Homo sapiens: one gene and its partners. The protein of the gene in region 1 purifies or fractionates together with the protein of each later gene. This does not show direct contact. Each region holds a gene or a part of one and is shown in the gene's direction. Other genes may lie near its edges.

Region 1 (3,634 bases):
GAGCGATAGACGTAGAGATGCCCGTTAGCACAAGGGAAAACCTCGCCGTGACACTGGAGTCTAGGTGCCCCAGCCAGGGGAACACACCCCAGAGAACCAGCCACATGCAGGCCAAGTCCTGTTCATCCTCACACTAGCTGTGGGTCTCAGGGCAAGGCCCTTTGCCTCTCTGCACCTCAGTATTCTCAGCTGTAAAACGGGGCTAATCTCTGCGACCACACAGTGTTTGGAGATTATTGAATGGGTTAATGAATGTGGAAATGTCTGGCCATCACGGGTGTTCAGCACAGAGCTGAGTGGGTGGAATGGATTGAATGAGTCTTCCACTGTGCATCTGGTCTCCAGAAATCAAGTTCTGGAGAATCAGTGGCCTGGCCTGTTTCTTGCCCTCAGTACCCAGGGATGGTCCTGAGTGACCGTAACACTGCCAGGGCTTTTTGCCCACCCACCAGTGGGAGATTAGAGGTCTGGGGTCATGACAGAGTCTTGGTGGGCCCTGGCCGAGGCCATCCTCAGCTCTCACTGGGTTCCGTCTGGCACCCGTGTGGCCCACAGCGGGGCACTGTGGGCGGGCCAAGCCTGTACCACCATGGCTCAGCGCCCCTGGTTATTCTTTCTCTGGCTGAACTTGCTTTGGATGAGGGCTCAGCTTCTAAGGGCCGATGTCCTGTTCCTTCCAACAAAGGCACTGTCACATACCATCCCCTCGAGGTCACTCGGCCTCCTGGGACTCCAGCGTCCTCATCTGCGTGATGGAAGCACAGTCATGCCTCCCCAGAGTGGCGTTTTGAGGATAAGATATGATAACGTGTCTGAAGTGCTGTACAGAGCGGGAACTCTGTACATAGTAGCTGGTGGTTATTTCTGAAGGGATTGGAGGGAAAGCCCCCTACAGAAGGCAGCGTGTGTCAAGTGGGGTCACCTGAAGAGCAACTCTCAGGAGGCTGCGTGGGGCCTGCCCTGTGCCTGCTTTGCTGTGGGTGGGAGGGAAGGAGAGCCCTGGCCTTCGTGTCTCCTCTGGGCAGGATGGGTGGAGGGGCCAGAGTGGAATGGGGCAGAGCAGGGCGGGGCCTTGACCTGGCCGAGGCTGGGCTCCCTGCCGCTGCCCAGCCCCGTGTGGGCACTGGCATTGCCTGGGGTCTTGTTCCTGTCACGGGGTGGCAGTGTTATGCTCAGGGTTCCTCCCTGTGGTTCCCTAGAGTTGAAGAGGACTTGGACCAGATTCTGAACCTGGGAGCTGAGCCCAAACCCAAGCCCCAGCTTAAGCCCAAGCCACCAGTGGCAGCTAAGCCGGTGATACCCAGAAAACCAGCTGTTCCCCCCAAAGCGGGCCCGGCTGAAGCTGTGGCTGGGCAGCAGAAGCCGCAGGAGCAGATCCAAGCCATGGACGAGATGGACATCTTGCAGTACATCCAGGACCACGATACACCAGCCCAGGCCGCCCCCAGCCTCTTCTGACCCTTCCATGCTGGCCCCTGGCCCAGCAGGCCTGTCTGTGGGGACATCGGTGTGAAGGGAAGGGACTGGGCCCTGCAGGGTCAGAACCTCCCCACCCCCAGGGGAGGCCAGGCAGAAGCCTGGGTCACAGCACCCAGAACTGCATGGTTCCATTTTCTCCGGGGCTGTGGGGCCAAAGTAGAAGCCTGCGGGCTGCGGGAGCGGCTCTCACCCTAGGAGCCAGAGCCCAATGTGTCTTATTCCCCGTGGACATGAAGGGGAGGGAGGGTGTGGGGATGCCTTGCCAACCAGAAGCCCAGCCCCAAGGATGAAGCAAGACATGTGGGGCCGTAGCGAGGTGTCACATGGGGCAGGGAAGCTTCATGCCCACGGGTTCTGCCAGCCCCAGCACAGACCCAAACTGGGGCTGGGCCTCTATCCCTCCTCTGCCTCTGTTCGCATAGTAAGAAGGAGTGACCGGTATCCTCCCCTTCCCCTACCCTAAGCTGTAGCCTGGGTGACTGACTGGCCTGGGCCTGGGGTGGGGACGTCCCCAAGCCAAATTACTCCAGGGCCTCTGCTCCTCGTGGCTGCCAGGGGCCTGCAGGGTCTGGGTGGGTCTCCCAGGAGAGGAATACTGAGTGGGAGATCGGCTGTCTGGAGTGTTCTGATGCAAGTCTCTCTCTCCTGAGCCTCCTCTTGATGCAAGCTCTAAAGGGAGAAGTCAGGCCCTGCCTCTCCAGGGTATAGACGGCCCTGCTAGGCCCCAGTTCTTCCTCCTTCCCCCTTTCCCAGGAAAGGCCAGCCCAGTCCATGGCCTTCTTGGGCCTCTGGGCACAGAGCCAATGTTCGTCATTGCAGCTCTCAGCAAACTGGGTCATAGCTTTCCCCACAGCTCAGCCTGGGGCCTGGGCAGGGCTCCCAGCCTGCACCGCCTCCCACTGCCAGTGGGGCATGATTCTCTCAGGCTTCTGCCCCGAGGCCTTCGTCGTCCTCAGGGTCTGGACTTGGTCAGTGGCCTTTCACCAGTGGAGCTGCCTTCCCAGGGAGAAGGAGCCGTGCGCCAGGGCAGGGCCCGTGCCTTAGACTTCTCCCGACCCCCAGAGCGCTGGTACACAGGTCTAGGCACCACACAGTGCTTTGGAAATTCTCAGTGAATGATGTTTAATAAAGCAAAAAATGTCAAGGTGTCTTTCTTGGATATAATTCTTCATGTTCAGAGCTAGTTTTTTGTTTTGTTTTGTTTTGTTTTTTAATGAAACAGTAGTTTTAAAGGAAATGCAACCACTATTGCTCCTTGGCCCTGTCCTGCCTGGCAGAAGCATTGAGCGGGTGGGACTAGGACCTCAGACCCTTTTCTGATAGACACCAAAGCCAGCCCTGAGGGAGCCCCCGGCTGATGGTGCGGGTGGTTTGCAGCCATCAGTGTTGAGTGTCTCAGCTCCTGGCCCGTGCCAGGACCTGTCTGCTCTGTCCTGCATCTGATCACGTCCCTCTCCAGCTGTGGCGCCCTGTCCTGAGCAGCTTCCCCTCCACCAGTGCTAGAGTGAGAGGAAACAGGTGGTTTTGGGGTCGAGAGCTGACTCCCTCCTCCTCCGTCTTAACCCAGGCTCAGAGGGTCAGCTCCCTCCCCAGGGCTCTGAGCCAGCTCTGGGACAGCTCCAGCACCGGCTCCACCCATTTGCCTTCCCCCTTCACACCCGCCCCTCCTTCCCAGCACTCAGCCCCGGGCCCTGCATCCCTTGCTGACTGCAGCGGAAGGTCTCAGTAGGAGTGGGGAGGGGATGGGGCCAGGTCTTCCTCCGAGAGGTGGCTCCAGCTCTCCTCTGGGCTTTGTCCCCTCCCTGCCCTTTCTGCACCCTGATGCTGGCTCCCTGCCTCCTGCTCCCCACCTGCTTTGGGTCAAGTGACATAGGAGCAGAGGGCACAGCGGGGTAGGTGGCCACAGGGGCTGGTGCTCTGCTTGGGGTCACTGGCAGAACCTGGCCTGCCCGTTGTGTATTCATCCACTGTGGACGCCACCTCCTCAGTGGTCTGGACTCTCTGGACACCATCACAAAGACCCCCAGATATTGATGCTCCAGTATCTGTGGCTTGTTCTTCACCCACAGGACTGCGACTCATGGCCAATCAATGATCCTTGTCGCCTGATAAAGCCTGTGCCTGTGACCCATTCCAGCCTGTGTTAGTGATGTTC
Region 2 (4,353 bases), about 80 Mb from region 1:
GCCAGGTGTGGTGGTGCACAGCTATAATCCCAGCTACTCCGGAGGCTGAGGCAGGAGAATCACTTGAACCTGGGAGGTGGAGGTTGCAGTGAGCCGAGATGGCACCACTTCACTCCAGCCTGGGCGACAGAGCGAGACTCCATCTCAAAAAATAATAATAATAACAATTTTGTACTTTTCCTTAAACAGACTTTCCAAATTATGTAAGATTCAGGCTCCACAAAAGCTGAATCTTTTGTGATTCTGCTTTTGTGAAAGGAGAATAAGAAAATTAGTAAAACTTCACATTTATTATCAATGTAAAGTCCCATAGATGAATCACTGATTGTCTGAAGTGTATTTGAGACTTCAGGGAGCTCAGGGATGAAACTGATGATTTGTTGTCTAAAGTACTCATCATGTCTTTTGAAATGGCTGCTCTTCCAGAGGGCTGCAAGGTAAGCAATGTGTGAATAGACAGTTAGCAAGCATGAGGAGAGATGTTGGTGCTGGAGATGGAACCTGGGCACCATCAGCACAGTCATGGTATTTCAAACAATGGAGAGAGAAGTGCAGTAAGACAGGACCTGAAAATAGACCTTCACATTTACCCATCAGTGGCTGCCAATGTTCTGGAGAATTTTTATACAGAAATAATTAAAATGACATTAACAGGGGTAGTGGTTTACTTCTGGTAATAGTGAAGGAGTGAAGTCGTCATGTGAATCCAGAGGGGAAAACAGTTATAAGAACTGTATTAAAAAAAATAAAGACACTATAAAACATCCAAAAACAGAAGCTGGAGGAGAGTTTCTAAAAAAACCTGCACATGAAAAGGAAAAGAATTGTGTGTGGGTTTTTTGTTTGTTTGTTTTTTGTTTTGTCTTTTTGGTCCCTGAGTTCTGTCTATCTCCACAGCTGCAGCTGCACAAAAACAGTACTGGGACAAACACTCAGGATCACTACGTGAAAGTACCAGGAGTTCAGAGTTCCGAGTTCTAACAGAAGAGCTGGAAATTAGGGGAATCCCTAAAAGCAGAGAAATCCCGGAGTGGATGATTCCCAGCTCTGGCCAAATCCTGGCTTATTTCCAAATTTCATAGGCATCAGGGAGAACCACAAGGCTTAAAAAGGAGCCATGGAGGCTGGGTGCAGTGGCTCACGCCTATAATCCCAGCACTTGGTGAGGCCAAGGCAGGTGGATCACAAGGTCAGGAGTTTGAGACTAGCCTGGCCAATATGGTGAAACCCCATCTCAACTAAAAAAAAAAAAAAAAAAAAAATTAGCCAGGCATGGTGGCAGGCGCCTGTAGTCCCAGCTACTCAGGAGGCTGAGGCAGGAGAATCACTTGAACCTGGGAGGCAGGGGTTCCAATGAGCCATGATTGTACCACTGCACGCCAGCCTGGACGAGCGAGCAAGACTCTGTCTCAAAAAAAAAAAAAAAACAGTCAACTAAAATTGTCTCTGAGTGGGCCCAGATATTATATTTTCCACAAAGAGACTTTGAAGAAGTTATTATGCATAAGTTCAAAGAGTTAAATTGCATGCAAAGAATTGAAGGACAATATGGTACCTTTGACTTAAGAGCAATCTCAACAGGGAGATGGAAACTATAAAAAATGGAAATTCTGGCTGGGTTCATGGTTCATGCATGTATGCCCAATGCTTTGGGAGGCTGAGGCAGGAGGATCACTTGAGGCCAGGAGTTCAAGACCAGCCTGGGAAACATCACGAGACCCCAAGTCTACAAAAAAATTAGCCAGGCAGGGTGGCATGTGCCTGTAGTCTGAGCTACTCTGGAGGCTGAGGCAGATTGTTTGAACCCAGGAGTTAAGGGTCACAGTGAGATGTGATCATGCCATTGCGTTCTAGCCTGGGCAACAGGGTGAGACCCTGTCTCTAAAAAAGAAAAAAAAAGGAAATTCTAGAGATAAAAATTATCAATGCTGAAATTTAAAATTTCTAGGTAGGGTTAATAACACATTATACATGGCAAAATAATCAGTGAAATTGAAGATAGATCTATAGGAAGAGAAATTATTCAATGCAAAAAACAGAAAGAAAAAAGATTAAAGAAAAACAAAAAGAATCTTGGAAACTTGTGGGACAATATGAAGTGGTACAACGTATGTGCAATTGGAATCTCAGAAGAAGACAGAAAATGTTTGGCAAGAAAAAAAAAGAAGAAATAATGGGTAAAAAGTTTCCAAATTTAGTGGGAAACATTAATTTCAGATCCAAGAAGGTTAACTCAACTTATAAGCAATGATAAACTCAAGTCATAATCAAATGGCTAGGCTGTAAACCAAAGATAAAAGGAAAGTCTTGAAAGCAGTAAAGAAAAATGACATGGAATGAGAATGAGAAAAATGACATACAGGGAAATAATATTTATGGTTGTCATCTCATCTGAAACTGTGGAAGCTGGTTGACATTGGAACAACATATTTCAAGTGCTAAGAGAAAGTCTTTCAACTATATGTAAACCAGTAAAAAAAGAAACAAAAATAGTGTTTTTATAGATTTGAGAAAATACTGCATTCATAAGATGAAAAGAAAATGCCATGGGAAATTACTGATCCATATTGTATTTTGTTTACTTTTATTGTGGCACTTAGTATATTATGATTTGTATTGTAATTGTTTTTAGTCGTGTCTGTCTTAGCTCATGAGACTGTAAACTCCTGGAAGCCAGGAAGATGGTAATGACCTGTAACTGCTGAATGAATTTAAAGTGGATAGCCAGTTTTCTCTTAGCACGTCCCTTAGAACTCCTTTGAGCAGAACATTTCAGGTACGGTAGCTCCTGTGTTCTGACTGTAGATTGTATTTATGAGCTATTGAAGTTTGCTAAGTTTCCAGGGTAGAGAAAGTAGCGATAGAGTCATCCTTTGATGGGCTTTGTTTATTCTATGTAATGTGAAATTAAAACAAATTGTTCTAATAAATTTGTTCAGGGAAGTTTGTATTCAAGTATATAATCATGCTGGGTTTTAAAAATGTACACTTTGTCTTCGGTGAATCTAGGGACATCAAGTAAAAGCTCAGGCTCTTTCTGGATTGGGAAGAAGTAAGGAAGTGTTAAAGGAATTTCTCTACTGCCTTGCTCTGAATCCTGAATGTAACTCTGTGAAGAAAGAAGCACAGAAGGTATGAGTTCTGTTAAAGGACTTTCTCTATCAGGTCTTATTTATAGCCTTCATGTCCATGCTGAGTAACCCTTGCATGTGAAATAAACAAGAAATATAATTCTGAATGTTCGTGATAATGCAATAAAAAACGCATGGCAATAATTGTAAGGTTCATACATTGGATAACTTCTAGGTAAACATTATATTTTGTCCCTGGGTAAAGCAGAGTGTTTCATGAGACAGTGTAAACATGCCTCGATTCTGTTGACATAAAGACACATGTTAGGCAAGGTTATTATAGTTTGTGTAGAAGCTTCATAAAAGACATTATGATATATGTAAAATGTATCAATTCGGCTCTATAGGGTGACCTGTAATTTTCAGCAAAGGTTCACCAGCATAGTGCAGAAATACCTGCTCTTTTACCCATCATCCAGTCACACTGAATGTGGAAATCTGTCCTGTTAAAAAGCTTATACAATAGTTACCTGGTATTTACTTAGCATTTCCAATGACCAGCGTTTTTATGTTTTTATGTTTGCGCTTCCCTGTTTTAACACTGTTTATTGTCAACTTCTACCACGTATTTACCCTGTAATTTTTACTTACCTGTGTAGTTCTATTTTCTGGAGCAACAGAAAATGAATCAGTTCTTCCTTGTACAATTCAAACCACGTTAGATGTTTGGGAACAGCTATTATCTTTGCCTTAATGTCACCCTGTGGGCCAAACATTCTTTTCTCACAGAGTGGCGTTTCTAAGATTTCCTCTTCTGGATGTGTTCTAATGTACCCTGTGTTTTAGCATCTACATTTGACAGCCACAGTTGGTGAAATTTTACCTTCACTTGTGTTCACATTAGGGGCATGTTTATTTTTAAATACCTCGTTCCTCTTTTTTAAAAGTAAGAACTTCAGAGCAATGTTGTTTTTTATCTTCTCTTGTGCAATTGATTGGCGTTAGTCCCATTCAGTTGTCCTGACAGTTGTTCAATTGACCAGTATCACTCATTGGTTTTTGGCCATCATTTCAACTTGTCAAAATAATATTGCATCTTCAGCCTGCTATTCAGCTATCCCTGCCTGCTTTGTCCTATACGGAAACTTCCTAAGAATCTTAAAACATATCTCAACTGATTCTCATAACACTTTTCTGAGAAAGTCAGTCCAAGGTCAAAGAGATGAAGCACATTCACCAAGGTTCCTGGACCAGGGTTTAGGTCTTCTGGGTTGTTGTCTAC
Region 3 (4,881 bases), on another chromosome or scaffold:
AGGCCAGGAGTTCAAGACCAGCCTGGCCAACATGGCGAAACTCTGTCTCTACTAAAAATACAAAAAATTAGCCAGGCTTGGTGGCACAGGCCTGTAATCCCAGCTACTTGGGAAGCTGAGGCACAAGAATCGCTTGAACCAGGAGGCAGAGGTTGCAGTGATCTGAGATCACGCCACTGCACTCCAGCCTGAGCAACAGAGTGCGACTCTGTCTCCAAAAAAAAAGGAGAAAAAGAAAAAAAAGGCCGGGCGCGATGGCTCAGGCCTGTAATCCCAGCACTTTGGGAGGCCAAGGCAGGCGGATCAACTGAGGTCAGGAGTTTGAGACCAGTCTGGCCAACATGGCAAAACCCGTCTCTACTAAAAATACAAAAATGAGCCAGGCGTGGTGGCGGGAGCCTGTAATCCCAGCTACTCGGTAGGCTGAGGTAGGAGAATCGCTTGAACCGGGAGGCAGAGGTTGCAGTGAGCCGAGATCGCGCCACTGCACTCCAGCCTGGGCGACAGAATGAGACTCAGTCTGGGAAAGAAAAAAAAATGGTTTTGGAAATATTCGCCTTCAGGGATTGGCTGTCTTTCCGAATCAGAAGTGGAGTGCGGCAGCTGAGTACCCACTGACTTTCGGAAGCCTGGTCGCTGGTGTCAGGCACTTGTTGATTGGCTATTGTCGGAGGCTTAGAGCGGTCACTGATTGGCTGACTTTCAGAAGCGTGGGGTTGTCATTGATTTACTAAGAAGCATAGTTACCGGAGTGAGGCTATCGCTGATTGGCTGATTTTCAGAGCTGCTGCACCGACGAGAAGTTATCTCTAAATAATGGTGGTTATTTGTTCACGACTCCGGACTTGAGCTAAAAAAGTATTTTCCTTTCTTGAATATGAAAGACGAGCACTTTAAATTCCTACTCCCTTCTGGTCTTCCCTCAGCCAAACCTGAAGGAGACACCATAGGGATTGTCCAAATCTTCATTAGTGTAGGAAGGATTTTCAGCCAGTGTTGTAATTTAAGTGATCTAGCACCAATTACTGTGGGAGAAAAATAGCTCTAATTATTGCAATTTAGTGTAAAAAGATGAATACAGGACATTTAAGGCATTCCGACGAGGTCAACGAAGGACGCAGGCCAATAATCATTAAATACGTCCTGTATATACAGGACTCCTGGCAACTATCAGTGCAGTATTTCCCAAGTTTCTTGTACATGTCCCTGCAGAAACCGGTAGAGCTAGGATCTTAACAGTAAAGGTTAGGGGTCTTCTGGGATCCTGTGCGCCTCTAACGCTCATGCCCTGCGCAGGGCTGGGTGCGCACTGCTGCGCTAACCCGAGGCCGGCTAGGAATCTATTGGATGTTTGAAGGGTGGGTGCGGAATTGATGACCAGGAAGCGGGAAGACACCGTTCCGGAGAACAGGGAAGCGAGCCGGGTACTGGGGAGGTGCGCTGGGTACTGGGGAGGTGCGCTGGATCCTGACGCCGGAGCGGAAGACTTCGCTGGAGGCCGGGGCTGGTCGGGCGGGGCGGGGCGGGCAGAGGCGGAGGGGCGGGGCCGGGCTGGGAGAGGCTCCGCCCCCGGGCGCGTCCGTGTGCGTGGCCGGGGGGCGCCGCGCAGAGCCCCGCTCTATGATGCCGGGCTTGAGGACGAGGCCGGGCGGCGCTGTGGCAACCCTCACCCTGCGGACACGCGCTCCCAACATCCGGTCCGGCGGCCTCGCAGCTTAAGAAGTGGGGTCCCTGTGGCCGTGCGCCGACCCCCAACTCCAGCCGCTCCCAACGCCCCCATCCGCTCTCGGTGCGCGCGCCCCCTCCACGCCCCCGCCCCCGCCCCCGCCGGGCCCGCGCGCCGCGCCCCCTCCCACCCGGCACGCCCTGCCGCCCCGCCCGGCCGCAGCTAGCGTGGAGCCGCCCTGCGGGCAACTGAGACCCTCGCAGCTGCACCGTCCTCCTCCGCCGCCAGTCGTCCGCCGCCATGGACGTGTACCCCCCGCGCCGGCAGGGGCTGCCCCGCGCTCGGTCCCCTGGCGGCTCCAGCCGCGGGTCACCCTCCGTCAGGTACGCGGGGCAGAGGCAGCCGAGGGGCGGCCGGGCGGGGGATGCGGGCTGTCGGGGTCCGGCGACGCCTCCCGCCGCAGGGCGTGGTCCGACATGGCTTCCTCGGGACGGTTCTTTGCTGAACGGCTCAGGGAGGAATTTTTCCCAGGAACGGCGCCCTCTGTAGAGGCCCCACAATGGCTCCCCTTTGGACAACCCCGCAACGGTTTCCCCACAATGGCTCCCCCACAGACAACCCTGCAACGGTTTCCCCACAATGGCTTCCCTAGGGACAGCGATTCCCTGTGAAGACACTGTTATGACGTCCTCACCCCCATAGAACGTTTCTCCCAGGAAGGATTCTTCTACACAGAACCCCACAGAGGCTTCCCTATGAATAACTCACTCGCCTTCCCCAGGGAATGTTTCCCTCAGAAACTGCTACTCTACAGACCTCACACCTCCACACACACAATAGCTCCCTCGTGTAGAACCCCCAAATGGATTACCTAGAAAGCCCCCTCCCGTGGGTCTCTAGAGCCTTTGCCCTTGACAACGGCTTCCTTAAAGAGTGTCCCCCGCCCCCTACGTACATAATGACAGCATCTCCCCTGTCGCGCGTTTCCCCAGCTCCCCCTGCCTCAGCCTGCATCGCGACGCCCCCTCACTCCACAATAGGGAGCTCGGGTTGGGAGGAAGTAGAGGTATTAGGGACGCAGGAGGAAAAACTGGATAAATAGGGGAAAGAGGCCTAGAACCTCCGAAAGCGGCGGACGCCAGGCCCCTTACCGTAGAGACACAGTCCCAAGCTACCTCAGTATGGGGAGGGGGTGATCGTGGGGAGCGTTCCCCGCCCCCTTTAGATATAGGAAGATCCGTTTCCGATTTCTGTGCCCTATGCGTTTGGTGCTGATCTTGTTGGTCTGGGCATTGTTTGTGATGGAGCTGGTGTGGGGCGCCGGCGCAGTGTGGAGGTTGGAATGATGGAGGGGTTGCAGCAGAGACCTTTGAGAAGGAGAGGGAGAGGGGGAATGCGAGCGATGAGCTTTGGTACTGCTAAACTGTCATTAAAACAGGAGAGGGTTTTGTTGTTGTTTGCTTTTTCTTATTCTAGCCACATAGCAAAGCAAATATATTGTTCCCTTGAAAGGAGGTTGCCAATCTACATGTTAAAACAGTTTTCTTATATTCTTGTTATGGTACTTAAGGCATATGTTTTAACTTTGCTTGCTGATCTGATTTTTGGGGTTGTTTGTTTGCTTTAACTAGACCAAATTATTGGAGAACAAGAAACTGATTCTTAGAAACCTGTTTCTTTTTTACTTCCCTGCATTCCTTTCCACAACCCAGAATCCAGTATATGTTTGTTGAACAAATAAAGGATAGAGAAGGTGGGGGGTAGATACCAATGAAACATTGCATTTAGGAGTCCTAAATTGCTTCGAATCTGTCAGGTGACATTTTTGAACTCCTGCTCTGCCCTTCAGTGTAATTCCTTGTGGGCTTTACAGTTCCAAGTTTAACTGCTTATAGTAACGCATCTCCAATCCTTTGCAACATTTCTGCCAGTTTCACTGTCTGAAGCAGAAAGTATTTGAACTTGTATAGACATTGCATAGGATACTTTAGAACAGCCATCCGTTAAATCTAGGCTCTGTGTGGACTTGAGGTTTATCCCAGATCATCTTGAGCTTAGGAATTTGGATTTGAGTCTGTTGAGATCTTTAGGGGGAAAAAAATCATCTCTACCTTAGAATCTGTCTCTTAAATGCTGCCTTTCTTGTTTTTAGTAGCATGGCCATGTGCTTTTTATTTATTCTTTTAAAGGTAGTGATTCTATGTTCAAAGAAGTATGCTGGCTCACTTTACTGATCATACCCGAACTCCAAATCTTCTATCAAGTGGTTTGAATAAAATTTGATTTCAGACAAGGAATAGTGCAAGGAACCCCAAGGCCTAGCTGCCCCCAATACCTTTGGTGAAAGAAATTTGCTGAAGGCTTCCCTCCTTTCCCCACTTCTACATGATTGAACGTGCTTTTCTTGCCCATTCAAGCCTTTCCCTTACTCTTGACATTGAATGTTACTAGCACTTTCCTGTCACCCATATATGGCTTTGCTGCTGACTGCTGAGTGATGGAAGGGGCAAACCTAACTGGTGAAGTGACATTCCTAAGACCCATAGATAGTACTCTGCAAGTGTATGGTTCTAGCACGGTAGTTCATTTTCACAGATGGAGAATGGAGATCAAGAATTAAAATATTGTTACTCAGAATGAGAGGCTTCTCTTTAAGCATGTGATAGTCATCAGTCTTACCAGGTATTTTTGGTTTCTGTCTCTTGAGCATGTAGTAGAATTTTACTTGCTTGCTTCTTTGAAGTTAGGTATGGCCTTAAGAGTTGCTTTTGGTCAGTGAAATGCGTGGGAATACTGTGTAGCCTTTCATGGTACAAATTTCTGTTGTGTAGTTTTCCATTCTCTTTCCTTCTGTCATGGTAGCTGTTGGGGCTGCAAATGGCAGCCACCCATCAGTCAAGGCCCCAGAGCTAGCTTCCAGGTGACCTATGCTTGACAGGTAGGTTGAGCAAGAAGTGAAACACCACCGGGATTTTGGACTTATTACCAAGGTATAAACTAACCTATCTGGATCAATGCTAAGGAACCAGTGGAAATCTAGCTGAAAGATACTTTCTACTTCAAAATGTTTTTCTGTAGAGCGATCTGTTCCTGCTTGAAACTTCTTTAATAGTTTAAATTTCACTGTTTATTTATATAAATTATGCAACAAGTACTCTGTTAGGTGCTGTAGAGTCAGATAAATACAGCAGTCCCCTGCCCTCAAATAACTCTTT
Region 4 (4,353 bases), on another chromosome or scaffold:
CAGTACAGGGGTGGTGTACTGAGGTGTTTCCTCCAGCAGTCTTCTGTGGCAGGCCTGATTCTCTTAGGATGAATGTAGTCATCCTCGGGTGGGGGGGTCCTACGTTTCTCCTTTAGACGGTCACGCGGATGAAGGGAAATGTCAGGTTGCTTTGCCTTGGGCTGGGGTCCTGCACAGTTGATGGTCACAGGGTTGTGAGCCCATGCTGGTCAGAAGCCTATGATTGGTACATAGGGATTTTTTTCTATGAAAGGAAAATAGGAAATTAAATGATTGCTTAATAAACACAGCTTGCTTGGTAGAAACAAATCTTTTTAAAAATGGGGTTCCTGGGGAAATATATGGGAGAAGGCAGCAGCATTGAGGAGGCTCAAAATTACTGCTTGAGCTCTCCGAATCTCCAGGGACTGCGACCTAATAGGTCCTTAGTCAGTAGTCAGCATTTGCTAAGACTGACAGAGAGGATGGTGCCGTGCCCCGAGGGGGTGCCTCCGGGCTCTGTGCATTCAGCTGCAAGAGCCTCTGTGTCCCTGTGGCCTCACCGGGGCTTCCCTCCAAGTGGCACTGCCTGGTGTCCGTGTCTGATGGGGTCTGTTGAAACTGTGGGTGGGGTAGGCCCTGGGAGTTGGGAGAGGTGGTTCTGGTGCTTGGGAATCCTGGTGAAGCTGAGAACAGTTGCCCATCTTGCCTCAGAGCCTGACATGGTAATCCTGTTTGTTTGATTCATCCATTTAACAAAATGGCACAGACCCCTGCTGTGTGCCAGGGGGTACCAGAAGCCAGTCAAGCAAGATGCAGTTTTTGTTCTCAGCACGCTCAGTTTTAGTCTGGAGGAGAGATCGCTGATGTGTCTGATGGAACCCGAGGCCAAGTTATCACTGCTGTTCATTTCAACGTTTTACGAGCGCTCACCATTTACCCAGCCCTCTGCAGAGCAGAGCTGTGGGCAGCCAGAGACGTGTGTGTGGACACTGTCACGGCCACAGGGAGCTCCCAGTCTAATTGGGGAAATGGACATGAGAAGAGAGGATTGTGCTGTTGGGCAGCAGCAGGGGCTGGAACAGAGGCGTGTGCGCAGTGCGACCCACAGGGACCCGCTCACTGCTCCCCGGGGTGGGCAGTGGACCTTTCTGCTTTGGGAAGCTCAACAGGCATTGTAATGCTGCCATGAGCCATGGCCTGAACCGTGCAGGCAGAACCTGGCTCTCTGGCCATTGCCACTGCTGTTGGGGAGTCCCTGAAGGACACGGGTATGGAGGGGAGGATTCAGCTGTAATCTCGGAGCACCCACATCCAGCCTCTGGCCCTTGATGACCTGGGGGACATAACTGTGAGCCTTACAAGCTATCTCTGCCCACATGGTCAGGGTGGGCCCTTGGCGGGCTTAGTGTGTTCTTGGATGATTTATTTCCTTGACTCTTCAGGGCTCTTGAGAATCTTGCAGTTGGTTTTCGGTCACAGTTGCTTTGCAAAAACTGAACTGCTGAACAGAGTGGCCTGACTCTCTTTACCCTGTCTCCCTCTCCCCAGCCTGGAATGGGCCTGGCTGCCCACGGCACACGTGGCAAGGGCCCCTCCTTGTGCCTTGGGGCTCCTGAGCAGCTTTCCTAGGAGGAAGAACCTCGACCCCCCAGCTATATCTTTATGGGATCCTGGCCTGGACTGAGGACAAAGCCAGGGGCCACGGGGTACCCCAAGCTGCCCATTTTCCTGGGAAGGGCACAGTGGCCCTGACCGGAGCTGTCATTTTCGGCTGGGGTTGGTCAGTCCTGCCCTCCTTGCCGTGGCTGCTGTCAGCACATGTCATTCATGTCGTAACCATTCGTGGGGCTCCTTCCTGCGGCAGCGTGGCGGGGCTGAGGCCATGCACACCAATCCGAGCTGGGCTCGGGCGCCCTGCTGAGGACACCAAGCAGCCACGTTGCCTGTGCTCCAGCAGCTCCGAGGTCTCTTCCTGGAAGTCTGTTGGGTGTCATCCTGCAGCTCAGAGCCAGGGAAATGGCAGTGGGGAGGGGGCTTCCTGGGGTGACAGCAAAGCTCTGTGTCCACAGGCAGGCAGGACGCATGCTGCAGCCCTGTGGGGTGGGCACGGTGGAAGCCTTCCTCTGTGTGGCAGAAAATGTGTCTCAGATCTCTGGGAACTGGGACAGGAAAGTTCCCAGAGGGGCATGTATGGGGAGGCTACAGAAAGTGTCCCCCCATTTCATGTTTGTGATAGCAGCTCAGGACAGACAAACACCAAGAGGGTGGCCTTGGGCAGCAGCCAGTGAGGAGAGGCAAGATGGGGTTAAGCTTCGCACATTGAGGGCTGGGCACAGTGGCTCACACCTGTAATCCCAGCCCTTTGGGGGGTTGAGGCGGCGGATCACTTGAGGCCAGGATTTCGAGACCAGCCTGGCCAACATGGTGAAACCCTGTTTTTACTAAAAGTACAAAAATTAGCCAGGCGTGGTGGTGGGTGCCTGTAATCCCAGCTACTCGGGAGGCTGACAGGAGAATCGCTTGAACCCGGAAGGCGGAGCTTGCAATGAGCCAAGATCGCGTCACTGCACTCCAGCCTGGACGACAGAGTGAGACTTTGTCTTTAAAAAAAAAAAAAAAAAAAAAAAAAGTTTGGCGCAGCCAGCCTTGGGGGTTGCTTTCAGATAGGAGAGGTGGTGGGAGCCCTCTCCCCCGGGGCAGCCTCTGTCTGAGGACAGTCACAGGTGGGTGGGACAGCGGGTGAAGGGGTTAGTGACAGGGCTCATACTGGCCCTGCCACAAATCCGCAGCGTAACTTCCAACAGGGTGTTTCTGGCCTTCATTTTCCCCATCTGGAAAATAAGGGTGTGGGGGAGGGGAGCCTCGGGATCCCATAAACGCTCACCATCTGGAGGCCTGGGGCCCGTTCTAGGTGGACGAGTCCCAGCCTGCACTCAACCACAGAGGCAGGGGCAAGATGCCTGACTCCAGCTGGGGAGGAGGGGTGGTGGAGCCAGTCCCACGAGGGCTCACGGGCCACCCTGCAGCCTGGGTTGTGGGGAGGAGGAGAGGATGCCCAGACACTGAACATCTTCACATCTGCAGGTGACCGGTTAAGGCAATTCGCCCCAGCTCAGGTCAGGAGATGCCCTGAAGGTGGTCTGATACCAGTCAGCCAGCCTGCCCTGCTGGTCCCTTGTTAGAGAGTCTCTTCTGAAGTGGCCTTTCCTGCCTTGGATAGACTGACATAAAGGCTGGACAGTGAGCTCATTTCTTCATCTTCCTTGATTCCCCCTCCCTGTGCTCGAAATGTCTCCCCAGTTCCCCACATTTGCGTGGGTCAGGACACGCTCGCTGCAAAGAACAAGCCGGCTGAGCACAAAAGGGAGTTTTATTGGGAGGACCCTGGGGGGGGGTCTCCTAGAGCCCAAGGTCATGGGTGCAGCCAGGCTCAGGAAGGGCCTGGCCATCTCTGAGAGCTGGACAGGGGCAGGGCCCTCCTTCCTCCTGGCTCTGTGCGTGTCCAGGTCTCGGTATTCTGCTCTCTTGCTGCTGCTTGACCCCTGTGGTCAGCCAGTGTGAGATCTGCTCCAGGCCTCATCTGTCGGTCCCCAACCCCCTTTCCGAGCCTGTCTGCTCAGCATTGTGAAGTCTCTCACCCGAGGCCCTGTCCACAGGCAGAACGTGGACATTCAGCCCAGCTCCACCTGCCCGGGTTCTCTCTGCGCTGCCACCTGTGCACACCATGGAGGCCGTACGAACCCTGGGCAGCTCTGTCCCGCTGCTAAGTGTCGGGCCACTAAGAAACCCTGAATTCTTGGTTGGTCTGCTGTTGCTAAGCCACATCCCCCCCTACCCTGGCATGTGTCGCTTCTTGTTAGACCCAAGCACAGGTCCTTGTGTTCAATCCCAGTTCATCCTTGTGGATCCACATTTTCATCCTAGAATCCACTTTCACCATTCCCAATCACTGTCGTCTATCATGAGAAGGTCTGGCATGCAAGCCTTTTGTGTCTTTATACCAGCTACTGCTCTAACTTTAATGGAAAGGGCTGGCTGGGGAGGATAAGGCCCAGCGTCCCTCTGGCTGACACTGCTGTCACCATTGGTCCCTGTGGGGTGATTTCAACCAGCTCCTTGCTGGCTGTCCTGGAACTTAGCCCACATACTCCACCACCTTGTCCTCGGGGGTATTGGAAGATACTTTTCCTGGGGGAACCTGAGGAAGTTCTGTTTAGTTCACAAATATTTTCTGTCCCAGGTTCCACACCAAAGCTGGGGGGCCAGACATACTGCCTGGTGTGCATGGTCTTACGGGAGCACCTGGACAGACCGATGCACTTGCTGAATCTTGGTGGGTTAGGGGAGCAGGAGTGAAAAGCGGTGGTGGTG
Region 5 (4,353 bases), on another chromosome or scaffold:
GTTATTTAGCACAATGTTTTGGACAATTTGTCATTGAACAGTTTAAAAATATGTACTTTTAATACAAAGATAAATTGCCTAATTTTTAATATTTATGTTAATTTTGATAGAACTTTCTTTTTGCCATTAATAGTCATTATTCTTTCCTATAAAATAAATTTGTGTTTAAAACAGGTTTTCTAATCTTTACCTGTTTTCTCCTGATATTTTAGGGTAGTCAATCAGTACCAAGAATTAGTCCAGAATGAAGCCAAATGTCCGGTCAAGATGTCACACAGCTCCAGTGGCTCAGCCAGTCTGAGTCAGGTTTCTCCAGGGAAAGAAACAGATGTGTGTTTCATTAATGTTACTTCTTTGTGCCCAGTTGTTTCACAAGTAATCTGAGAAATGTTAAGAATCATTTTTGGAGGCTAGGCACAGTGGCTCATGCCTGTAATCCCAACACTTTGGGAGGCCAAGGTGGGTGGATCACCTGAGGTCGGGAGTTCGAGACCAGCCTGACCAATAGTGTGAAACCCCATCTCTACTAAAAACACAAAAATTAGCTGGGCATGGTGGCACACACCTGTAATCCCAGCCACTCGGGAGGCTGAGACAGGAGAATCTCTTGAACCCCGGAGGTGGAGGTTTCAGTGAGCCGAGATAGCGCCACTGCACTCCAGCCTGGGCAACAGAGCAAGACTCCATCTCAAAAAAAAAAAAGAATCATTTTTTGAGGAGCGGGGGTACAGTTTAGTTTTGTTTCTACTTTTACCTTTTTTTAAAATTATTTAACTCTTTATAACATGATTTTTAAATGTACACAAAGATAAAAGGAAAATTACAGTGAACACCTGTGTTCTAGTCATTTGGCTTCAACAGCTGTTATTTTCCTTTAATAGATAAGTATGGAAGAGTGGAAGCTTGCTTTCATCTTACTCCTCTGCCTTTCTCCCTAAAACTCTCTCTTCCCACCCTATTACTCAGAAATCTTTTCCTCATTCTTTATGTGTACTGTAATATATTTCATGAATCTCATGTGAAATTTTCTCTGTAATACATATAGTATTCAATCTGTAACCACTAAGAGCACTTTGCAGAGTTAAAAATCTGGGATTTATAGCAGTATTAATTTTATTTAATAAACTATGAAGTTAAATATAAATATCATCTGGGGTTTATAGCAGTATTAATTTTAACAAGTAAGCTTAATGTCATTGTCTTTTAGCAAACTGAAACCGTGTCAGTTCAGTCTTCGGTATTGGGGAAGGGTGTAAAACATCGACCCCCACCAATCAAACTTCCCTCAAGCTCAGGAAATAGTTCCTCAGGTATTACATTTCTTAGTTTTTTGCAGTCTAGAATAACAAATATTATATAATCATAATCTCTTTTTAAAACTTTGCCCCATTTTGATTTCTACAGTTCACAGAAGTTTGAATTATAAATTTAGGAAATAACTTTTATGTTCTTCTAGGTAACTATTTTACACCACAACAGACAAGCAGCTTTCTCAAATCTCCAACTCCTCCTCCTTCTTCTAAGCCATCAAGTATTCCTCGGAAATCATCTGTGGATCTCAATCAAGTTAGCATGCTTTCTCCAGCTGCCCTATCACCTGCCAGCTCATCACAAAGTGAGTCATAACTTAAATTCTTCATTAAATCTTCATAAGCTTTTGCATTAGTGTTTCTTAAGACAGCTTTTTTCAACCTGTGAAGTAGTGATATCTGAATGTACTGTGTACCCAAAATGTATAAGTTGCTAGAAGCTTCAGGCAGAGCTCTTGTTGATTGTATGTATTATGTCTCTATTGTAATTGTACTTGTTTTTCTGTATCTGTGTATACATTCTGCGTGTACCTTTCTTATAGGCTTACAACCTACACATCTCCTTAAAAAAATAACCTGGTAGTTACATGTGGCAATAAGATTTCAAAATATTTTTTATTCCAGTGTACCCTAGGATCATTTTGCATATTTATGTAAATTGTGTGGCTGATATGAAAAAAATGTCATAAGAGTTGTTGCTGCAGGTCCTATCTTTGTGTATATGTAAGAAGTCAACTAGTTCCAAGGTGGTGATACAATAAACTGAAAAACAATATTTCAAAAACACTCCTACACTCTTTTATAAATTGTTGTCAGTTACTAAAATGTGATGATAATCATAAAGCATTATTCTGAAGATACTGAAATGTAATTTTTACTACTGAATACTTTTTTTTAACATCAAGAAGAGTTATACAAGAATGCTAGCATTAGTTTGGGAGAATTTCTTCAAATTAGTAAATATCTGAAAGTACCAATTTGGGGAAAAAAGTCATTCCAGTTTTTTAGATTTTTTATAGATAGCTAATATATGCTGAAAGTTTTAGTACACTGCACAGTGATAGGGTGGTCTTCGCATTAGATATAAACATCTTCATCTCGATAGCTCAAAAGGTGTAATTTTTCTGCCTTCTTGTTTTGCACAAAGAAAAATATATAAATTTTCTGAAAGTCTTATTCACACTTCTTATGTTGTGGGTATGGATTATGGTAATCTACTGCACACAGTTGTTACTTTAAGTAAGGGTTGAGTGACAGCTTCTGGACATTCACATTTCTTTCCTTTCTTTCTGCAGGACATGAAAGCTAAAAAAGAAAACACCTCAAGAGCTTTTGGTTTTACTTTTTTGGTTTTTGTTTTTTGTTTTTGTTTTTTAAAAAATTGATAAACTGTGCATACTTCATTCACAACAGATTTTCTATACATTCTACATTTAAACAGAAGTACACAGTTACTGTTAAAGATGCAGTATTATCTCTCAGATATTTGCTTTATTACTGTTTTTTGTAAATTTGTTTGTCAGGATAAACTTGATGTGTTAGGAATTAAACATGTATATTTAGGTGCCAAATATGATTGTTAACCATATGTAACTTATTAAATATGTTTACAGTTTATCTCAGACTTTTACACTAAATAAGCAATATTTTTAAATGAAGTCTTGAATTAGTGAAATCGTAAATAACAAATTAATTTGAATTCGTTTTGAACTTTTTAGGCCAAAGGCAGCATGTAGGAAACTAACTTTTAAATGGGTATTGTGGTAGAATATAACTGTATATTTTTACTGTTACTGCAATAGCATCTTTAATGGGATTTTTAGGTGATATACTGCATCCTTAATTGTAATTGAGTGTAGCAACACTCATGTATCATGTGTAGAAATTAACACTTGCAGTTAACTGCTAAAAAAAAAAAAACTAGAACAAATTGTCAGTGCTAAGTAAGATTCCATTAACCTTATTTTAAAAGGACTGGCCATTTATAACAAACTAGCAATTTTTATTTTTCTCAATGAGCAGGATCTGGAACTCCTAAGCCATCTACTCCTACACCAACCCCTTCATCGACCCCACACCCTCCTGATGCTCAGAGCTCAACTCCTAGTACCCCTTCAGCCACCCCTACTCCCCAAGATTCAGGCTTCACCCCTCAGCCCACTTTGTTAACTCAGTTTGCTCAGCAGCAAAGGTCTCTGAGCCAGGCAATGCCTGTAACAACCATTCCTCTTTCCACCATGGTAACATCTATAACTCCAGGAACCACGGCCACCCAGGTCATGGCAAACTCTGCTGGACTTAACTTCATCAATGTAGTGGGCTCTGTTTGGTAAGTTTGCATTGATGTTCGGATTTTTTTTTTATAAAGATAGTTTCACCAATCTAAATAAATTCTTAATGTGTGAAATTAAGAACAAACCGCATATTACTCAGACTGAAAAGGAATAGTTTAGATATGGACAGAAGCTGCCTGACCATGTATGTTTTAATTTTAAATAATACATCTGTTAACTGCACTAAGATGATATCTCATCTTATCGTTTTTGTTTTTTGATACTTCATCTTGACAGCAGCTTAGAATTTCCTATTTATCTTCTGCATTACTTTCTTTGATATTTAAGACAGATAAATAACTAGTTGTGTTTGCTTAGTAGTTTTGTTTTTTAATCTGAGGAATTGTGTGGCTGATTTTTTCCTTTTACAGTGAAGTTTAATGCTTTGTCTTATTCTCCTGCAGTGGGGCCCAGGCTTTGATGAGTGGTTCAAACCCCATGCTGGGCTGTAACACTGGTGCCATAACTCCTGCAGGAATAAACCTGAGCGGCCTTCTACCCTCAGGAGGTCTGCTACCAAATGCACTGCCCAGTGCAATGCAGGCAGCTTCTCAAGCAGGTCAGAATGTTGGAAATAATAACCTCTAAAAAAAATTAAAGTATATGCTAAAGTAAAAATGTAATTTTAAGAGTAATGCTAAAGGCATTTAATGTCATTATTTCATGAAGTGTTGTATCACATATATTTCACTTAAAAAGCCTTTAAAAGT
Region 6 (4,353 bases), on another chromosome or scaffold:
AGTACAATGGCATGATCTCAGCTCACTGCAACCTCCTCCTTCTGGGTTCAAGTGATTCTTCTGCCTCAGCCTCCTGAGTAGCTGGGACTACAGGCTTGTGCCACCACACTCAGCTAATTTTTGTATTTTTAGTAGAGACAGGGTTTCACCATATTGGCCAAGCTGATCTTGAACTCCTGACTTCGTGATCCACCTGCCTCGGCCTCCCAAAGTGCTGGGATTACAGGTGTGAGCCACCTTGCCCAGCCTAATTTTTGTATTTTTAATAGAGACTGGTTTTGGCCATGTTGGCCAGGCTGGTCCCGAACTCCTGGCCTCAAGCAATCTGCCCACCTCAACCTCCCAGAGTGCTGGGATTACAGGCATGAGCCACTGTGCCTGACTTCCAAAATTCATTTCTTTAATAATGAATTTACACCTATGAGCAAATAAAGTCAGCTGGTCTCTTAAAAACAGTATTGGGCCAGGCATGGTGGCTCACGCCTATAATCCCAGCACTTTGGGAGGCTGGGGCAGGCAGATCACCTGAGGTTAGGAGTTCAAGACCAGCCTTGCTAACATGGCAAAACCCATCTCTACCAAAAAATACAAAAATTAGCTGGGCATGGTGGCACATGCCTTGTAATCCCAGCTACTCAGGAAGCTGAGGCAGGAGAATCACTTGAACCCAGGAGGCAGAGGTTGCAGTGAGCCAAGATCGTGCCACTGCGCTCCAGCCTGGGCGACAGAGCGAGACTTCATCTCAAAAAAAAAAAAACAACCGTATTGGTCTTACAAATGGACTTGGCAGCTTTGGCTGATGTTTCTGTTGTGCACACAAAATGGTCCTTTAAGGAAAACCTGAAAATTTATTCTAGAATTTTAAGATAATCCATCAGAAAAAACAAACAAAATTCTTCCTGAAATTTCTAAACAATACTTTGGTTTTGAATATTTAGGCTTTCCTTTCATAAATTTGATTGGTTGATTTATATCTTTTAAAAAATATGTCTTTAGGGCAGCTTTGTAATATAAAAAATATTTCCACCTATAATTCTTTACTTTAATGTAACTGTTTTCTTTTCTTTTCTTTTTTTTTTTTTTTTTTTTTGAGACAGTCTCATTCTGTCACCCAGGTTGGAGTGCATGGTGTGATCTCAGTTCACTGCAGCCTCCGTCTCCTCGGTTCAAGCAATTCTCCTGCCTCAGCTTCCTGAGTAGCTGGAATTATAGGTGTGCACCAGCATGTCTGGCTAATTTTTGTATTTTCAGTAGAGACGGGGTCTCCCCATATTGGCCAGGCTGGTCTTGAACTCCTGACCTCAAACGATCTGCCCACCCCAGCCTCCCAAAGTGCTGGGATTACAAGTGTGAGCCACCACACCCAGCCTAATGTAACTGTTTTCCTTTCCTTTTAGTCTTTATCTCATTGTTATATGTGATTATAATGTTGTCATTTATGCAGTTGTATGTTCTATTTTAAACCTTAAAATTTGTTACTTACCAACTTTTTGAATATGCCTGACTGAAATGATTCATACTGTAGCATGTGTGACTCAGGGTAGTGAAAGGGGGTTTGTTTTGAATAGCAAGATGAGCATCAGACTAGTCTTCCAACCAGAAAACATTCCATGCAACTTGAGACACAGATGAAACAGCAAATTTCTTCTTGGCTTGGGGTTGGATAAAGGGTGGATTGACTTATGTAGTGTTTGCTAAAATGACAAATGGTGAGATGCTAAAAGCACTTTGAGCTTTAGGGAGTTCAAAGTGGCCAGGCAAATTAAAGTTATGTGACCTATCTGAGAATATAGCATAGTTCTTTGTGAGAAAAGAAAGTGAGATATTTGTGCTTTGTTGGAAATAAAAAAGATTTTAAAAACTCAAGGCTGGGCACAGTGGTTCACACCTGTAATCTCAGCACTTTGGGAGGCTGAGGCGCAGATCGCTTGAGCTCAGGAGTTCAAGACCAACCTGGGCAACATGGCAAAACCCCATCTCTACCAAAAAAAAAAAACCCAAAAAAGAATGAAAATTAGCTGGGCGTAGTGGCTCACACCTGTAGTATCAGCTACTTGGGTGGCTGAGGTGGGAGGACCACTTGAGCCTGGGAGGTTGAGACTACAGTGAACCTTAATTGCACCACTGCACTCCAGGCTGGGCAACAGCACAAGACCTTGTCTCAGAAAAAAAAAAAAAACCACAAACAAACAGAAAAACTTTTATCAAAAATACCTACTGCTCATGCTGGGTGTGGTGGCTCACACCTGTAATCCCAGCACTTTGGGAGTCTGAGGCAGGTGGATCACTTGAGGTCAGCAGTTCAAGACCAGCCCGGCCAACATGGTGAAACCCCATCTCTACTAAAAATACAAAAATTAGCCGGGCGTGGTGGTGCGTGCCTGTAATCCCAGCTACTCGGGAGGCTGAGGCAGGAGAATTCACTTGAACCCAGGAGGCAGAGGTTGCAGTGAGCCGAGCTCGTGCCATTGCACTCCAGCATGGGTGACAGAGTGAGACTGCATCTCAATCAATCAATCAATAAACCTGCTGCTCAGATAGGGTAAGAAATAAAAACAGCATAATCATCTGAAAGAAACGAAATTGTGTATCTTTTAGACTTCAGACAAAGTAAATATTCAACATCTGATAACTGTTAAGGACACAAACTTGAGCATATTTGTGTTGAGTTCTTTTATAACTCTAAAATATGCTAGAATTCTATGGAGGATTGATTCTGAGTTTACAGACCCTTGAAGACATCAGGAGTCTGTGTACCTACAGTGGTAATATATTAATATGTGTGAGTCCCTAGTTAACCGTTTACACCTGGAATGCCAGGCAAAGTAGACAATGTCAGAGACACAGAGGAACAACCTGTGCAATGGATGGAAATGCAGTAGATGGACATATGCTCTTGTGTGTTTGGAACCTTCACAGGAAAGAAGCAGAACACAAAGTGGAAAGTGCAGACGAGGCAAAGGACCTGTGGAAGGTTTGTTTCTAAACCTCAAACCTCAAAGATCTTTTTTTTTTTTTTTTTTTTTAATTGAGACAGAGTCTTGCTTTGTCGCCCAAGCTGGAGTGCAGTGGGGCGATCTCAGCTCACTGCAACCTCCGCCTCCTGGGTTCAAGCCGTTCTCCTGCCTCAGTCTCTGGAGTAGCTGGGGCTACAGGCGCCCACCACCACACCCGGATAATTTTTGTATTTTTAGTACAGATGGGGTTTTGCCATCTTGGCCAGGCTGATCTCAAACTCCTGACCTCAAGCGATCCTCCTGCCTTGGACTCCCAAGGGCTGGGATTACAGGTGTGAGCCACTGCGCCGAGCTTAAAGATCATTCTCGAAACTCACTTTAGCAAACTTGGGTATTTCAGTTAGGATTAGGTTCAATTGTAACAGATCATCAAACAAACAAACACAAAAAAACCAGGAACTTAAAGATAGAGTTTTTGGGTTTTTTTTTTTTTCCTTACATGAAAGAAGTCTGAAGCTAGGTAACTGAGAGCTGGCATGGCAGTTCTGTGATCACCAGAGACCTAAGCTCCCTCTTTCTTTTGGTGTCATCATCTTTAGTGCTGGCTTCCACCATCAGGTTTGCCTTAGGGCTGCTGAGTGATCGCTGCTGTTCTAGCTGTCACATCTGTGCTCCAAGCAGGAAGAAGGACAAGGCCAAAGGACATATTTCCTGGTAGAATCCACCCCCTGTACCCTAAAGGGCTTTCCTGGAAACCCCACCCACTTATCGGATACCCCTATCTGTAAAGGACATTGCCTTCACTTATAACATGGAGACTAGATATTGGATAGGCAAACCTTGGTCTTTGCCATACCAAGTGATCGATCATATTCCTAAAGGTATTTCTTAGACTTAGGTTGCTAAGACTTCGGGATATCTACAGACTCAGAACAGGACAGTAATAATGTTTGGTGAACCTGGCTTTTCGTTTCCTGCTTAATTGATTAATTCAACAGTATTTAGGACTTACCACATGCTAGGCACTGGAGCTACGATAGTAAGCAAAATAGACCCAGTCCCTGCCCTCAAAGAGTTTACAGACCCATGGGGGAAAGAAAGGTTTTAAAGAAGTGGATTATAAATATGTTGAACCTTAAGAAGAGGGAAGTAAAGTGTGCTTGGTTGGGGCTGTGTGATAGGAAAGGCTCTATAAGGATATGTCATAACATATACATTGAAACTTAAAGGATGCTTAGGAGTTAGCCAGGTCAGAATGGCAGGGATGGAGGTGTCAGAGGAGAGCAAGAGGGGGAGGAGTGCCCCAGGTCGACTCACTCCCAGTCTGATAATTTCCATTACAATTCCTTTTTCTTCCATTATTTGTCTTAATTCTTCATCAGAGGGAATCAGTGGG
Region 7 (4,353 bases), on another chromosome or scaffold:
AAAATTATAAAGATGGAGTTTTACTGTCAACCTGGCTGGAGTGCTCTGACATGATGATAGCTCACTGGAGCCTTGAACTCCTGAGCTCAGGAGATCCTCCCACCTCACCCTCTCAAGTAGCTGATTTGGGTGACTCTCTTAAGTAGATCTCTGAATTTGAAACTATTGCTATTTTTAAGGAGTGGAGAAATCAGTGGTGTCTCCATGTATGATGGAGGACAGTTAACATCAGAGAATTAGAATGAACAGCATAATGGAAACATGAATGACTATGTTGAATGAAGGGGAAGATGGTGGAGAGACTGGCCTGGCTGGAGTGAAAGGTAGTTTTGAGAGAGTACCTGTTACTGGGCAACAGGGCCTCTGGTGGTGTAAAGCCCCCAGGCACCCTTTATCTCAGGTCATCTTATTCACCCTTTCTTTTGTCCTTCCTGTCTGCTTGCCTTTTTAACCACAGTACTGCTTAGTCCTCCAGTAGAGCCGGGACTTAGTGTCCAAATCCTACCTTGCAGCCTTTGGAAGAAAATCCTGTATTTAATTTTTTAGGAGAGTTTTTATCATTTAGAAGAATCACAAAAAGACAAGAACATTGCAGATGGTACAGAAAGTCTCATTTTTATGTGTATACAAAAATATATGTAAATATGCTACTTTTAATAAAAATAAAGTATATGTTGTTTTGTAACCCTTTTTTTCACTTAATATATCATGAACATCTTTCCATGTCATTGAATACAGGTATCCCTTGCTATCTGAATCTACTTGGTTTCTGAGTCAGGGAGCTTGAGTTCAGGTAGAAAGGGATACCTGTACTTCTCTGTGGCTTCTAATAGCTGCACAATATTGCCTGTATGAATGCATTGTGGTTTAGTTAACAGACCTTTGAATATTGAGGCTGATAGTAACTTTTCTCTATTTATAAATAAACTTTGTATGTGCTAATACTTACATTTTTGTGCAAACTTATCATTATATAGAATTGTTGGATTGAAAGTATGTTATTTCCTCCACCCCATCACACGCTTTTATTTTTATACTTTCACTATTTACTGTTGGTTCCAGTCTTTATTTTTTTTTTTTTTTTTTTGAGACAGAGTCTTGCTGTGTTGCCCAGGCTGGAGTGCAGTGGCACAGTCTCAGTTCATTGCGTCCTCCAACTCCTGGGTTCAAGTGATTCTTCTGCCTCAGCCTCTGGAGTAGCTGGGATTACAGGCCCATGCCTTCACACCCTGCTGATTTTTGTATTTTTAGTAGAGACAGGGTTTCGCCATGCTGGCCAGGCTGGTCTCGGAACTCCTGGCCTCAGGTGATCCACCTGCCTTGGCCTCCCAAAGTGTTGAGATTACAGGCATGAACCACTGCACCCGGTCTGGTTCCAGTCTTTACCTTGGACTAAAAAGAACAAAAACTCACTCAAGTAAAAAATAGGTTGCAGTTTCCAGACATCCAAAGACAAAGGAAGAAAGCATAGTCAAGTTTCAGGGAACCAGAATTTCTAAGCCAGAGGCAGTGTTCTGTTTGTCACTTAAAGGCTGCCTGGTTTCCTTATTTTCTGTTTCTTTTTGAATATCCAGTCTTCCATCTCTACAGCCTACTTCACTTACTCATTTTTGTATAATGCCCAATATGGCCACTGCTGACCATTCTTGTATGTTATGACTGGATTACTAACCGGTTAAGAGTGTACCTCTAGGTGACTCTTTTACTTGTTTTGTTTTGTTTGTTTTGTTTTTTCCCTCAGGGTCTTGCTCTGTTGCCCAGGCTGGAGTGTAGTGGTTCGATCATGGCTCACTGCAGCCTGGACCTCCCGGGCTCAAGTGATCCTCTTTCCTCAGTCTCCCAAGTAGTTGGGACTACAAGCACATGCCATCATGCCTGGCTAAATTTTAAATGTTTTGTAGAGACAGGGTCTCCCTACATTGCCTAGGCTGGTCTTGAATCCTGGCTTCAAGTGATCCTTCTGCCTCAGCCTCCCAAAGTGCTGGGGTTACAGGTGTGATCCATTGTATCCAGCTCACCTGTTGTTTTAACCTATTTTGACTGCACTTGTCAGGAGTCTATTGCCGGTCTGGTGATCTTGCTGGTAGAGACACAAATCTGTTCATCTTGTCTTTTATGTGGACTCTTGAAAAGACTGGGTTGGGTAAGCAATGTAACAGTTTGCTTGTAATTTGTACACATAGTACATAACTTTCCAAGGATTACCTTTACCTAACATCATCCTACTAGTCCATGTATAGCCATGTGCTCACCAACCCTCCACATTTCAACTTTGTTTTTATTGCCAATTTCTATTCTAGATTAGGCCCTTTTGGTTCCAAGGAACAGACACTAGCTCGAGTGAAGAAGGATTTATTGTAATGATACAGCGCTCCCCAGGCCAATGAAATGTGGCTGTCTCTCAAGAAAATGGTGGTGGCCCAGAATTAAGGAAGTTGTTTATTATTTTCTCTTAGGAGCTTCAGATTTCTGCCCTGTTCCACTCTTCTGCTTCCTCCACTTCACTATAGACAAGCCTCCTCTGCCTGCTCACTTTGTACATGGCCTCAAATGGCAACCTCAGTCCCTAGCTTAGCTCTTAACACCTTTCCAGTTCAGTCTCTCTGTGTCCTGATTACACATTTCTGAGAGGTGAATCTAATTGCCCCAGTGTCTCCTTTCTCACAAGACTTTTGGTCATCAGCCTACCAGGGGATTGGCTTTTGCGTCGCTGCTGTAGCCAAGGAGGCCACAGGCCACCGAGAACTGTAGCAGTTTGGACAGGCACCATGAAGGACATCTGTTGTATAGTGTTAGCAAAGAATGCCAGTTTACATGCTTACCAGTGAATGAGAAGAATATGTGTTTCTGCACCTTCATCAATAGTAGATATTATTTTTCTTGTTGGCTCAATTTCTGTCAGTGAATGAAGAGAAGAAAAAAAACTTTCTTCTACATTAAATTGGGGGGTTTATTGTGAAGATTTGAAGGAAATAAGGAAATTGAGGGGATCTGAGTGCGTGGTCAGATCAGACTCTTTGTTCCCTTCAGTAGGCATGCATAGAACCCATGATTCTGGCTTAGCTGATTTTCCCTATTTCTGCTTTCCTTTCTTTTTCTTTTCTTTCTTTCTTTTTTTTTTTTTTTGAGACAGGATCTCTCTTTGTTACTCAAGCTGGGGTACAGTGATGCAGTCATAGTTCACTGCATCTTCAACCTCCTGGACTCAGGCAATCCTCCCATCTCAGCCTCCCACTACAAGAAGACACCACTACACCTGGCTAATTTTTTTTTTTTTTTTGAGACGGACTCTTGCTCTGTCACCCAGGCTGGAATGCAGTGGCACCGTCTCGGCTCACTGCAACCTCCGCCTACCAGGTTCAAGCAATTCTCCTGCCTCAGCCTCCTGAGTAGCTGGGATTACAGGTGCGTGCCACCATACCTGGCTGATTTTTGTATTTTTAGTAGAGATGGCATTTCACCATGTTGGCTAGGCTGGTCTCAAACTCCTGACCTCAGATGATCCACCTGCCTCGGCCTCCCAAAGTGCTGGGAGTACAGGCGTGAGCCACCACTCCCGCTCTGATTTTTTTTTTATCTTTTATAGAGACGGGAGTCTCCTGAACTCCTGACCTCAAGCAGTCTTCCTGCCTTGGCCTCCCAGTGTGCTAGGATTACAGGCGTGAGCCACCATGCCCGGCCCATTATTCTGCTTTTCTTTTTCTCTTGGTTCTTTTTTGTTTCCATCTGTTTTCTGCCTTCTCCCTAAGTCAAGTTCAAGGTATCACAGAACGAGGCTGAGGCAGCCTATTGGACATGACATTTGTGCTTGGCGAACTCCCTGTGCCACTGGCCAGACTGTAAATTGGTTGTCTGTTGGAAGGCTGGCTCCAGGTCCCAGCTATTCATGCCAGGATGGCAAGGCTACACAGAGCCCACCAGCAATTGGTATAGAAGGAACTTTTTAGAAAGAGGGCTGTGGTATAGGCATTCTGAGGACGTGCCAGTACAGGTGAAAAAACAAAATCTTATGCAGGAATCTGTTTTGTTTTCTGCTTCCTCAGACTCTCTCAATGGCAATGTATGTATGTATGTATGTATATATTTATTTATTTGAGACAGAGTCTTGCTCTGTCATCCCAGCTGGAGTGCAGTGGCATGATCTCAGCTCACTGTGACCTCTGTCTCCTAAGTTGAAGTGATTCTCGTGCCTCAGCCACCCAAGTAGCTGGGATTACAGGTGCACGCCACCACGCCCGGCTGATTTCTATATTTTTAGTAGAGATGCGGTTTCACCATGTTGGCCAGGCTGGTCTCGAGCTCCTGGCCTCATGTGATCTCCCTGCCTCAGCTTCCCAAAGTGCTGGGATTACA

What was found.
Region 2: the proteins of HS1BP3 (region 1) and LONRF2 purify together in Homo sapiens (affinity purification with mass spectrometry; one large-scale study listed by BioGRID and IntAct). This does not show direct contact.
Region 3: the proteins of HS1BP3 (region 1) and DNAAF9 purify together in Homo sapiens (affinity purification with mass spectrometry; one large-scale study listed by BioGRID and IntAct). This does not show direct contact.
Region 4: the proteins of HS1BP3 (region 1) and VGLL4 purify together in Homo sapiens (co-immunoprecipitation; one large-scale study listed by IntAct). This does not show direct contact.
Region 5: the proteins of HS1BP3 (region 1) and SUPT20H purify together in Homo sapiens (affinity purification with mass spectrometry; one large-scale study listed by BioGRID and IntAct). This does not show direct contact.
Region 6: the proteins of HS1BP3 (region 1) and DSTYK purify together in Homo sapiens (affinity purification with mass spectrometry; one large-scale study listed by BioGRID and IntAct). This does not show direct contact.
Region 7: the proteins of HS1BP3 (region 1) and IREB2 purify together in Homo sapiens (affinity purification with mass spectrometry; one large-scale study listed by BioGRID and IntAct). This does not show direct contact.

Annotation. Positions count from the first base shown.
Region 1 is NC_000002.12:20,616,811-20,620,444, reverse strand, and holds the end of HS1BP3 (HCLS1-binding protein 3), read left to right. Parts: intron 1-1,199; coding exon 1,200-1,458; 3' UTR 1,459-2,627; downstream 2,628-3,634. UniProt on the Homo sapiens protein: May be a modulator of IL-2 signaling.
Region 2 is NC_000002.12:100,301,700-100,306,052, reverse strand, and holds part of LONRF2 (LON peptidase N-terminal domain and RING finger protein 2), read left to right. Parts: intron 1-3,009; coding exon 3,010-3,132; intron 3,133-4,353.
Region 3 is NC_000020.11:3,404,643-3,409,523, reverse strand, and holds the start of DNAAF9 (dynein axonemal assembly factor 9), read left to right. Parts: upstream 1-1,854; 5' UTR 1,855-1,966; coding exon 1,967-2,049; intron 2,050-4,881. UniProt on the Homo sapiens protein: May act as an effector for ARL3.
Region 4 is NC_000003.12:11,560,150-11,564,502, reverse strand, and holds part of VGLL4 (transcription cofactor vestigial-like protein 4), read left to right. Parts: exon of another isoform or gene 1-217; coding exon of another isoform or gene 218-244; intron 245-4,353. UniProt on the Homo sapiens protein: May act as a specific coactivator for the mammalian TEFs.
Region 5 is NC_000013.11:37,021,297-37,025,649, reverse strand, and holds part of SUPT20H (transcription factor SPT20 homolog), read left to right. Parts: intron 1-212; coding exon 213-330; intron 331-1,207; coding exon 1,208-1,310; intron 1,311-1,456; coding exon 1,457-1,615; intron 1,616-2,605; coding exon of another isoform or gene 2,606-2,619; exon of another isoform or gene 2,620-2,927; intron 2,928-3,332; coding exon of another isoform or gene 3,333-3,569; coding exon 3,570-3,639; intron 3,640-4,047; coding exon 4,048-4,202; intron 4,203-4,353. UniProt on the Homo sapiens protein: Required for MAP kinase p38 (MAPK11, MAPK12, MAPK13 and/or MAPK14) activation during gastrulation.
Region 6 is NC_000001.11:205,170,128-205,174,480, reverse strand, and holds part of DSTYK (dual serine/threonine and tyrosine protein kinase), read left to right. Parts: intron 1-2,919; coding exon of another isoform or gene 2,920-2,974; intron 2,975-4,353. UniProt on the Homo sapiens protein: Acts as a positive regulator of ERK phosphorylation downstream of fibroblast growth factor-receptor activation. Involved in the regulation of both caspase-dependent apoptosis and caspase-independent cell death.
Region 7 is NC_000015.10:78,444,069-78,448,421, forward strand, and holds part of IREB2 (iron-responsive element-binding protein 2), read left to right. Parts: intron 1-4,353. UniProt on the Homo sapiens protein: RNA-binding protein that binds to iron-responsive elements (IRES), which are stem-loop structures found in the 5'-UTR of ferritin, and delta aminolevulinic acid synthase mRNAs, and in the 3'-UTR of transferrin receptor mRNA.